Linked DNA regions of Homo sapiens. The protein of the gene in region 3 binds, or shares a complex with, the protein of the main gene of each other region. Each region holds a gene or a part of one and is shown on either strand. Other genes may lie near its edges. A codon is read from its position in the direction of its gene.

Evidence for each region.
Region 1: the proteins of CCNC (region 3) and MED13 are in contact, whole or in part, in a cryo-EM structure (PDB 8TQC), measured with the Homo sapiens proteins. Residues at the interface, in NP_005181.2 of Homo sapiens: Gln7 (codon at 2,269), Gln13, Trp14, Leu16, Gln19, Lys23, Gln26, Lys27, Arg75, Tyr76, Glu144, Leu145, Asp147, Cys148, Ser221; in NP_005112.2 of Homo sapiens: Tyr1342, Ser1630, His1631, Val1732, Lys1733, Thr1734, Thr1736, Phe1738, Gly1739, Pro1740, Gly1741, Ala1743, Arg1897, Met1898, Ile1901, Asp1905.
Region 2: the proteins of CCNC (region 3) and CDK8 are in contact, whole or in part, in a crystal structure (PDB 5CEI), measured with the Homo sapiens proteins. Residues at the interface, in NP_005181.2 of Homo sapiens: Met1 (codon at 2,251), Ala2 (codon at 2,254), Gly3 (codon at 2,257), Asn4 (codon at 2,260), Ser8 (codon at 2,272), Ser9 (codon at 2,275), His10 (codon at 2,278), Gln13, Phe72, Tyr76, Lys79, Ser80, Ile81, Asp82, Leu85, Leu93, Lys96, Val97, Glu98, Glu99, Phe100, Gly101, Val102, Tyr130, His134, Leu136, Glu137, Glu139, Phe140, Tyr141; in NP_001251.1 of Homo sapiens: Met1 (codon at 2,653), Asp2 (codon at 2,656), Tyr3 (codon at 2,659), Asp4 (codon at 2,662), Phe5 (codon at 2,665), Lys6 (codon at 2,668), Leu9 (codon at 2,677), Arg13 (codon at 2,689), Gly58, Ile59, Ser60, Met61, Cys64, Arg65, Ile67, Ala68, Leu69, Arg71, Glu72, Leu73, Val84, Leu86, Ser87, His88, Arg91, Lys92, Val93, Asn145, Trp146, Val147.

What each region holds. Positions count from the first base shown.
Region 1 is NC_000017.11:61,946,679-61,950,427, reverse strand, and holds part of MED13 (mediator of RNA polymerase II transcription subunit 13), read left to right. Parts: intron 1-3,410; coding exon 3,411-3,511; intron 3,512-3,749. UniProt on the Homo sapiens protein: Component of the Mediator complex, a coactivator involved in the regulated transcription of nearly all RNA polymerase II-dependent genes.
Region 2 is NC_000013.11:26,251,990-26,255,738, forward strand, and holds the start of CDK8 (cyclin-dependent kinase 8), read left to right. Parts: upstream 1-2,139; 5' UTR 2,140-2,652; coding exon 2,653-2,780; intron 2,781-3,749.
Region 3 is NC_000006.12:99,567,029-99,570,777, reverse strand, and holds the start of CCNC (cyclin-C), read left to right. Parts: upstream 1-2,117; 5' UTR 2,118-2,250; coding exon 2,251-2,282; exon of another isoform or gene 2,283-3,212; intron 3,213-3,739; exon of another isoform or gene 3,740-3,749. UniProt on the Homo sapiens protein: Component of the Mediator complex, a coactivator involved in regulated gene transcription of nearly all RNA polymerase II-dependent genes.

The DNA.
Region 1 (3,749 bases), on a different chromosome or scaffold from region 3:
TGGGTGACAATATCTGAGACTCTGTCTCAAAAAAAAAAAAAACAACTAGTTTTTAAATTTATATTTTTAGAACTTTATTCCTAAGTCAAACTCCTAGGGCCCTTGTTGTTAGTGTAGATTGAGTATCCCTTATTCGAAATGCTTGGGACCAGAATTGTTTCCATTTTTGGATTTTTTCAAATTGGAGATGCTCAATCTGTTTCAACTGCATATATGGAAATTTAGAGCTGAGAGAAACTTTATATTACCTCTGTCTAACCTTCTCATTTTCTAGGTGAGCATATTTAAGTTCAGAAAAACTCACCTGTTTAAAGTCATAAATTGGTAATAGACTCAAGACTGAAACCTGGGTCTTTTAATGATTATTATGTTATTCTTTGAATTACATCATACTGCACTGCTGTTATGCTGCATTATTTTGGGGAATAAAAGATTTATAATCTTGGGCTGGGCGCAGTGGCTCATGCCTGTAATCCCAGCACTTTGGGAGGCTGAGGCAGGTGGATCACAAAGTCAGCAGTTTGAGACCAGTCTGGCCAACATGGTGAGACCCCGTTTCTACTAAAACTACAAAAAAATTAGCCAGGCGTGGTGGCACGTGCAAATTAGCTATTTGGGAGACTGAGGCAGGAGAATCACTTGAACCCGGCAGGTAAAGGTTGCAGTGAGCCGAGATCGCGCCACTGCACTCCAGCCTGGGTGACAGAGTGAGATTCCATCTCAAAACAAACAAACAAAAAAAAGATTTATAATCTTTGTAATACTTGATTTTTAGTTTCATTTACTACTTAAAAAAGTTTTTCTAGCTGTGTGTAGATTGCTGTGTTAAAAAAAAACTGAGTGGTTTTTAAATACAGTAATGAGACTCTCAGATTCATCGTGATTTATTACAACAAACTCAGGCTGGGCACAGCGATTCACCCCTATAATCCCAGCACTTTGGGTGGTCGAGGCAGGAGGATCACTTGAGGCCAGGAGTTTGTGATCAGCCTGGACAACATAGTGAAATTTTGTCTCTCTAAAAAGTTTTTAATATTAGGCATGGTGGCATGTGCCTATAGTCCTAATAACATGAAAAGCTGGGGCAGGAGGGAGGATCGCATGAGCACAAGAGGTTGAGGCTGCAGTGAGCCATGATCATGCCACTGCACTCCAGCTAGGTGACAGGAGACCCTCTCTCAAAAAAACAAAACCGAATTTGTTAGTAAGCAATGTAACATGAAGTGGAGATAAGTCACAAAATGAGATATAAAAGCCCTATACAGAATTATATTACTGCTGCTAATATTGTTCCAGAATAACAAATTTAGATGTGACTCACTTATTCTTTTTTTTTTTTTGAGACGGAGTCTCGCTCTGTCGCCCAGGCTGGAGTGCAGTGGCGGGATCTCGGCTCACTGCAAGCTCCGCCTCCCGGGTTCACGCCATTCTCCTGCCTCAGCCTCCCAAGTAGCTGGGACTACAGGCGCCCGCCACTACGCCCGGCTAATTTTTTGTATTTTTTTAGTAGAGATGGGGTTTCACCGTTTTAGCCGGGATGGTCTCGATCTCCTGACCTCGTGATCCGCCCGCCTCGGCCTCCCAAAGTGCTGGGATTACAGGCGTGAGCCACCGCGCCCGGCCGTGACTCACTTATTCTTATGTAAAACCACCGGAAGTTGACTGTTTTTAATCCACAAGTCATGCTAATTTAAATACTTGCTGCCGGGTGCAGTGGCTCACACCTGTAAACCCAGCACTTTGGGAGGCTGAGGCAGGCAGATCACCTGAGGTCAGGGATTTTCTATATACTAGTAGTCTTTGGTGTCTCCACAAAACAAAGGATTCTTTGGTCCTTTGGGAGGGTGCTACACATGCTATCTGTCCTCTTTTCTAGTCATAATACATGTATGCACACTAAAGTCTGAAAAACAGAGGTAAATAAGATAGTTTACCTAGCATTTCCCAAACTTATTAATACACAAGGAAAGGATTATTTAACACCTGTTAATAGTTTATTATCTTAGTGTTTCAGGGGATGTGTTCAGGAAACACAACTTTACAAAAAGTCCAAGGGACTATCTAGAGCTTTTCCTACTCAGTATTTATTTGCAGAAAGGATAGTATAAAGCGGGCATTCACCCTTAGATACATTGTAACAAGATTAGGACTTCTGGTTATGAACTATCACCTAAGGCATAATTTACCATACTTTTTGTTCACTTTTTTTTTTCATATATCTTATTTTAGTTTTATACTGTAGGCAGTAAAGCCACCTGGTTTGTTTCTCTTTGCTTGGAAATATAATGGGTTGTTAGCTAGATCCCTTTTTATCATAGGAATAGAGTACTGGTACTAATTACATTTTAAAAATTTGTAGTGATTTGCAGTGTGAGACTTGCTTATAACTCCATAAATCAAGAGTTTGTAGACAGTTGAAACATAGCTATTTTTGGTTATATTCCTAAATGTACTACATGAGTTTCTATATGTATTGCAGTTGCAGAGGAGAGAACACCTAAATATAAAATAGTACCTTATACAGTGTACAGAATGAGATCTACCAAGAGTTACTGCAGTGAACATCACCATTGTTTTATCATAGCTTTTTAATACTATATTGACTTATAAAAAAAATGACTCATTTAATTGGAGTGTGGAGTAGTTTATTCCTTTCTCCCACTATTCATTGCCATATCTAAATGAGTGTGCCAGTTTTTACCTACCCTCTATTATGAAATTGAGTGGGCAAAGCAGGCATCTGTGCACTGTATTACTTAGAGTGTTCTCAGTTCAACCGAAGATAGCTTGTTTAAGGTTTATTGTGCTGTAACCAAACTATTTGCTTATGCTTATTCCTGTTACTTTTTTCAGTGCTAGACGTAGGTATGTCTGCGTAGTCATAAAGGGTGTCATATATCTTAAGGACAGACTACTCAGGTTTAACTACTCAATTTAGTGCCTCCTTAAACATTTACTTTGCACATCTAGGCAAATTAGACTTAGCAGGTAATTAGAAATTCTTTTTCTAAGGATTATTGTATGGTCTCAAAAACAATAAAGCTAAAGAAAAGGAAATAGATTCAAAGTAAGTTTTGCACTTAAAAATCACTTCTGGCTAGGCACAGTGGCTCATGCGTGTAATCCCAGCACTTTGGGAGGCCAAGGCAGGAGGATTGTTTGAGGCCAGGAGTTCAAGACCAGCCTGGTCAACAGAACAAGAACCTGCCCCTACTTAAAAAAAAAAAAAAAAACATTTCTATAATGAATTAGTTAAAAGAGAACAAGCATTTTTATAGTGGCTTTCATTCATAACATAGGACTAAAATGTATTTCATCATTTTATAAGATATATTGGGAGAATAAGGTAAAACTAAATAGCAGATTATTTTCTGTTTGGCTGACTGATTGATTACCTGTTACCTTCTTAGGCCTCTTTGCACCTCCACGTGCCTTCAGTGCAATCTGACGAGCTGCTTCACAGTAAACACTCCCACCCACTTGACTCAAATCAGACTTCAGATGTCCTCAGGTACAACTCTTTTACCATTAACAGTTTGTCACTGCAACTTTAAAAGAATATAATGTTGATTCTTATATATTTTTCTCATTTTTGGCAAGAATTTACAGTTGTGTACCAGTGGATCTCTAGATAAACACTGCTATTCTAACTTGAGTAATCTACTTTTGAGAATAATTTTTATGGAAATTGCTTCTTTCCCCTCAAGGACTCTCTGTTACACTCTTTTTTAAGGTGACTTTGAGTCTTA
Region 2 (3,749 bases), on a different chromosome or scaffold from region 3:
TACATTTTTAAAAGTCTGAGGCCAGGTATGTGGCTCATGCCTGTAATCCCAGCACTTTGGGAGGTTGAGACAGGAGGATCACTTGAACCCAGGAGTTAAAGACCAGCCTGGGCAACAGAGCGAGACTCCGTCTCTCAAAAAAAAAAAAAAAAAAAAAACTTAGCTGGGTGTAGTGGCACATGCCTGTAGTCCCAGCTACTCAGGAGGCTGGGGAGGAGAATTGTTTGAGCCCAGGAGTTCAAGGTTGTAGTAAGCTGTGATCGCATCACTGCACTCCAGCCTGGGTGACATAGCCAGACCCTGTCTCAAAATAAAAACACAAAAAGACAAACAAAAAAGGTCTGAGACCTTCAGTGTTCCAGAATAGTGTGTATAATTGGTACAGGAGGTGGGGAAGGGGGACCCGATACAGTGTAGGGGCAAGCTGAGTCCCATGCCTCTTCACAACTTTTCCTCCAGTGTGGTAGTTTGATTTCTCAAGATCCATGAGTAAATATGTGCACAAAAGACACATCCCTCAAAAAATACAAAATACATTGTCTAAGGAAGAATCTTTTAAATCCATATTCAGAAAATGATGTAATTCTTTAAGGATGCAAATGAGCAGTTCTGCTAGAGAGTTACCCAATTTTCATCACTGAATGGAAACAAATAATATGCCATTAATGAAAGCCTACATTTGTTTTGTGCTTTGCACTTTGCAAAGAAAAAATTCTAGGCTCCAAGAACACATTAGTAAATGACAATGCAGGATTCAAACCCAGTATAGTAAAATACTCAATACTTATATAGTATGCTAGGTAAAAACAATTTAATTTTACACAGTGGTGAAGTCACTAATTTTCTCCAAGGAAAATTATATAAGAGAAAGCCCTTTGGAGGCTTTTTCACAAGATGATATCATCATCATCATCATTGGTATATGGATCTTTTTGAGATAAACATGTTTATTCATTCATTAATTTAACAAGTGTTTACTGTGCATCATTATCAAGGCATGACACTAGGTTTTACAGAAGATGCAAATATGACTTCCTATAACAACTTAGGATCTAGCAAGGTAGAGGAAATAAAAGATGAAAGGAATTTGATAAATATCACAGGAAAGGTGGGAAAAAAAGTGTTAAAAAGTTCACATTAAAACTGCAAAGTTCATATTCCCTTTGGGAAGTGGGGAGCTTTAGTGGAAATGGTAACAATTGGAAAACCAAAAATTAAAAATAGACAAGGGGGGTAAGATAAAATGATAGATTAGTATCAAGATACCAGGACTCCTGAAGCAGGACATATTGCTACCTTAAGATTATTAACAAACTAGTTCCCATGGATTTAGATCCTTTCTGTAATCATAGCTAGAAACTGGTGTTCTTATAGGTAGTATCGCAGAAGGCTGTACTGTACTCAATACTTCCTGTATATGGATAGGAAAGGTTTGGATGGTCATCTGTCACAAGAGTAACAATGTTTAGGAGTAGCTTGGACACTGGTCATTGATTCACTTTTATTGGTGCTTGTAATGTCAGTATGTTGACATCATTGTGCAGCCCTTATCAGATTGTGAACACCAAGAGTACCCCAACTGCTGGCCCGCGAGCTGTTTACAAATATCATACCGGCTTTTATCGATGATAGTGGCCTTTAAAATCTGGAGTTCAGAGTGGCACAAAATGTGTTTCTAATGCAAACGACTCTCCTTCCCACGTGCACCTCTTTGATCAAGTTTGTGGCTGAAATCAGACTCTAGTTAGATCGCTGTAAAAATAAAAATAAATTTTCCCCAAATGATTGAAACGAATTTCACCCTAGACTACGAGTCCCATCATGCAACGCTCCCATATTCCCACCGTGTGGGGCGGAGTCGTAGAAGGGGCGGCAGCGGCGGCGGCCTGTGCATTCTGGGTATTGTAGTCTGGGGCCCGGCCACCGCTGGGGCTGGTTCCACGTGGTGCATTTGGCGGCAGCTTTGGGCAGTGGCTCCCCTGCTCCCTCCACACGGTCCTCAGGGTGCCAGCGCCAGCAGGGGCGGCCAGCCACCGCGGGAGCGGGCTAGAGTGTGGCCCGGAGGCAGCCCGAGGCTTCGCGACGTTTTTGCGACAGCCGCGGCCGTGTTCCGCGAGTGCCCTCCCTCCTCCTCTCTTTGAGGAGGTACCGGCTGTTGTGCGGCTCTGCCCTTCTGTTTGAGTGTATGGGAGAGTGAGTGAGTGAGTGAGTGTGAGCGTGTGTGTGAGAGCGTGAGGCGTGAGTGCGCGTGTGAGAGGACGAGAGCCCGCCTGGCCGCCCCGCCGCTCCCGCCGCAGCAGGAGCAGAACGCGCGGCCGGAGAGAGCGGCGGAGCCGGCGCCCAGGGAGCCCGCGGGGACAAGGGCAGAGACACCGCTCCCCACCCCCAGCCCTCGTCCCTCGGCTCTCCTTCGCCGGGGGATCCTCCCCGTTCCTCCACCCCCGGCCGGCCTCTGCCCCGCCGTCCCCCTGGATGTCCCTGGCGCTTTCGCGGGGCCTCCTCCTGCTCTTGCCGCATCAGTCGGGCTGGTGCTGCGGCCGGCGGGCGTAGAGCGGGCGGGTTCCCGGGGGCTGCGGCTGCCCGTGCTTCCCCGGTCCCCACCCCTGCCCCCCGGCCCCCCGACCCAGCTCTCCGGCCTCAGAGGCTGTGACAATGGACTATGACTTTAAAGTGAAGCTGAGCAGCGAGCGGGAGCGGGTCGAGGACCTGTTTGAATACGAGGGCTGCAAAGTTGGCCGAGGCACTTATGGTCACGTCTACAAAGCCAAGAGGAAAGATGGGTGAGTGTGTGTGTCTGGGCCGGTGTCCGCGCTGGGCGGCGCTCCCGCAGGCCGAGGCAGGTAGCCCGGAGGGAGAGCGGGCCGCCGGGGTGCCGGGCTCTGACTTCCTCGACGCCGGCCTCTGGCTCCGCCAGCCAGGTTTGGGGAGGAAGTGGTGTACGAGGGATCCAAACCCACGAGAAATCCTGCGTGCCGCGTCTGTGTTCTGCTCTGGTGGTAAGAGGCAAGATGAGCCTCTGCACCGTGGGCTGTATACTTTTCAAGGATTTCAAAGCTGATTCATGAAAAAATTCGTTCTAAAACGCCGGGTTAAATGTTTTTTGTTTTTTTTTTTCCTTGGTCGATTTATTATGGTAACCTTCTGGGGATTTCCTCACCCGCCTCTGGAGTGTCATCCATCGGTCTAGAAGGAAGGCTGTGATCCTTTCCCCCACCAGTTTGTGATCGATTTTTTATCAAATTTGTATTTTATTTGAGGAAAGGAAGGCAGCGAGTGAATGTGGTTCTGGAGAGAGTTCCCCATAGTGATCATCTGCAACATAAATGTTGCAATTGCTATTTAGATATTATTAGCTGTGAATTTTTACATAGAACAATGGGGGTTTGGTGCAGGGTGGGTGGTGGGGAAGAAGGCAAGTGACATAGGGACTATCTCGTTCAGGCGGTTTCCCCCAAATTTAGCGGCTGGCAGTGAACTTTAAATAATCCCTTTGCTTTAAATATTCTTCCCTAGTAACAACTTAATTAAACCTATGACTGGTAATGCTTCCAATTTAGTTTCTTAACAGGCAAGTGAATTGTTCATTTTTTCTCTTTGTCAGTAGATGAATGTCTTGTAATATTGACAAAAGAGAAGGCAATTCTTAGTTGGGGGGAAAATATATTTTATTAACTCCATGTTTTCTTGTAAAATGGATGTTGTCTCTGTTGCCTTTGACAGAATAGAAAATTATTGAAAAGTCAAAGCTT
Region 3 (3,749 bases):
TAATTTTTGTATTTTTAGTAGAGACAGGGTTTCACCATGTTGGCTAGGCTGGTCTCAAACTCCTGACCTCAAGTGATCCGCCCATTTCGGCATCCCAAAGTGCTGGGATTACAGGCGTGAGCCACCACACCTGATGCAGACTAATTCTCACATACAAACAAATGCATTTCACATCTTGACTGTGTGTGTATATGTGTGTTTGTGTATGTATATACACACATATATAACTGAACCAAATTTAAATATAATATCCTTGCTATTTCTGATTTACCTAGTATTTTCTGTTCTATTTAGGAAAATGATTATACTTAATTTTACCACACCCTAATTGGTCTCCACCTACAATGTGAAAAATACTGTCTTAAGTTGCCTCAGATGCTGACTGTCTATAAACAAGTTTCTGGAGTGTCCAATTATTTAGAAAAATAATTATAAGTTTTACAATAAATGCATTGCTACAATGAAAATGAAATGGAAAATACAAAATATTTCGTCTTGTAAAATTAAATTATGGCTTTTTTTGCAGTATGTTTCTATTAGGTGCATACATGTACATACATGTGCATACATATATGCATGAATATTTTTAGATGTTCTGCAAAACTGTTGATTCCGCTGCTCTGTAAGTTTGCACTTTATCACTCCAAAATAACTCCATTAAGATCGCGGCCGAGATCTCGCCACTGCACTCCAGCCTGGGCGACAGAGCGAGACTCCGTCTCAAAAAAAAAAAAAAAAAAGATCGCGGCCGGGCGCGGTTGCTCACGCCTGTAATCCCAGCACTTTGGGAGGCCGAGGTGGGCGGATCACGAGGTCAGGAAATGGAGACCATCCTGGCCAACATGGTGAAACCCTGTCTCTACTAAAAATACAAAAATTAGCTGGGCGTGGTGGTGTGAGCCTGTAGTCCCAGCTACTTGGGAGGCTGAGGCAGGAGAATCGCTTGAACCTGGGAGGCAGAGGTTGCAATGAGCCTAGATAGCGCCACTGCACTCCAACCTGGGCGACAGAGCAAGACTCCGTCTCAAAAAAAAAAAAAAAAAAAAACCGCCTGATCCAGGCCGGGCCTGGTAGCCCACGCCTGTTAATCCCAGCATTTTGGGAGGCTGAGGCTGACGGATCACCTGAGGTTAGGAGTTCCAGACCAGCCTAGCGAAATCCCCTCTCCACTAAAAATACAAAGATTAGATGGACGTGGTGGCACGCGCCTGTAATCCCTGTAATCCCAGCTACCTGGGAGGCTGAGGCAGCAGAATCATTTGAACTGGAAAGGCAGAGGTTGCTGTGAGCCGAGATTGTGCCACTGCATTCCATCCTGGGTGACAGACCCAGACTCCGTCTCAAAAGTAAAAAACAGGCAGGGTGCGGTGGCTTACGCCTGTAATCCCAGCACTTTGGGAGGTTGAGGAGGGCGGATCACGAGGTCAGGAGTTTGAGACTATCCTGGCCAACATGGTGAAACCCTATCTCTACTAAAAATACAAAAATTAGCTGGGCATGGTGGTGCGCGCCTGCAGTCCCAGCTACTCGGGAGGCTGAGGCAGGAGAATCGCTTGAACTCCTGGAGGCGGAGCTTGCAGTGAGCCGGGATCGTGCCACTGCACTCCAGCCTGGAGACAGAGCAAGACTCCGTCTCAAAATAAATAAATAAATAAAGTAAAAAAAAAAAAGGAACACTTGATCCCTGAGAACAAAGTCATCTTCATTTATTTCTCTTTCCAATCACAGGAAAAATAAGTCACAAAACCTTGTACTTTATTACAATGCCACATTGTTCTGTTTTTGAAGTCCTGGAAGAGGTAATAACAGAACCCCGTATCTGAGCCACTTCGCCTAGGTTAGACCCACTCAGCAACTCCCGTGCTGAAGACAGGAGACCGAGCGGCTTGGGCCCCCGGCCAGAATTCTCAAGACGCTCTCGCGAGAGCCTTCCAACCGCCGCGAGCTCTCGTGAACACTAGTTCTCTTCAATCTCAGCACCTCCAAGGGTCAGCACCTCCCCTCCGGCTCCCTCCGCTACCGCGGGCCGGAACTTTTGTCGATAGGAACGGGTTTGCACAGTTGAGTGTTGTCGGCCGGCGTGAAGGAGACTAGGGGGCCATCCTCTTCCTTTCGCCGTCGCCGCCGCGGAGCGGAGTCGAGCCGAGCTGATTTGATCGAGGAGCGCGGTTACCGGACGGGCTGGGTCTATGGTCGCTCCGCGGGCCGCTCCGCCGGCTGGTGCTTTTTTATCAGGGCAAGCTGTGTTCCATGGCAGGGAACTTTTGGCAGAGCTCCCACTAGTAAGCGATCTTCCGTCTTCTCACCTGGGGCCGGTTTTTGGGGGAGCTGTGAGGACGGGGCCTGTGACTCCCCTGGGCCTGGATCCCAGCTCAGTTCCGAGTGCCGGGGTCCTCACGGGAGACCGCAGCGGTCAGAATCAAGATGCGCTTTTCTGAGGCGACTCCCCTCCCCGCCCCCAGCCCCAGTTTCGGGGAGGGAAGGATCTGTGAGGGGGAGGGGTGGGAGAGAGTTTCGTCTCCCGGGAAGGAACGTTTCGGAGTTTAATTTCGGATTCTTGGTTTAGCTAGGCCGCGGGGGGTCGGATAGAGTGGGCACAGGTACGGGAAGTGTGACTCAGCTCAAGACTGTGAGGCTACCTGTTCAGGACAGTTGTGGCGTGCTTTTACCTGGGGTTTCTTCGGGTGATCGGCGTCGTGGTCTTTTGTCATTCACTGTATATCTTGAGTGGATTTAATATTATGAGGAGAGGAGAGAGTCTGGCTTGTTTCTGCCTACTAACCGCTTCTTGCGCGTACTTTATGTCTAGATGGAGTTTTATATTGATAAGGTATAGGGCAGGTGCCCTCTAAATTTATCCATTTCATTAGCCTGTGCTTTATATTTTGTTTTAAAGGCCTATTTTTCCAGTGACTTTGTTTACCTGTTTCTTTAACCTTTTTCATGAATAAGTTCTTGTTTCTGTCAGTGACCATGTGAGAGCTAGAATAATATTAAAAACATTTATCCCTAAATACATTTGTTTAAGCAGGCAGGAAGGTGCGTTATGGGGTAAATTGAACATTTGAGTAGGCTTTCCACTGTATAGTTGAAAGATGAACAGAATTTGACAAGGTATCTTGGTATAATTTTTTATGCTAAGAAAGCATTAGTAAGTAATTTAAATTTCGATTCTGTGAATAGGATCTGTTCCTGATGTTCATTTTTTAGCCCTTTGCAAAGAGAAAAAAAGAAACAATGAACTCAGTAACCTATTTAAGGAAAAGCAGGTTTTCCTCTTGCTATAAAGTGATTCTGTGGAGATGACATGTTAAAGAAGCTTTACCACTGATCATATGTGTGTGTGTGTATATATATGTGTGTGTGTGTATGTATATATATATGTGTGTGTATATATGTTGCATTGTTTTCACACACTGAAATATTGCTTGGGCAAAATTAAAGTATCGAAAGTTTAGGTATTGGAGTTAGAGCTCCTGAAAAAAAAAGTTTAGGTAGTGGAGAAGAGATATTCTGATAAACTCTGAAAGAAGCTGAGAGAATTGACAAGTAGCTGACTGTTGATTTTTCAGTTTTTCAACTTAAAAAAAAAAGATCCTGCCTTATTTTCAATAGTGTTCTCATTATGCTTTCATTTATTCATAGCATTCTAAAAATATGTTTTCACTTTTCAAATATAAAATTATTATAAAGTTAAGTGTACTTCTTTGAAACTATTCTTTTCTCCCAATTCAAATAGTCCTAAAAGA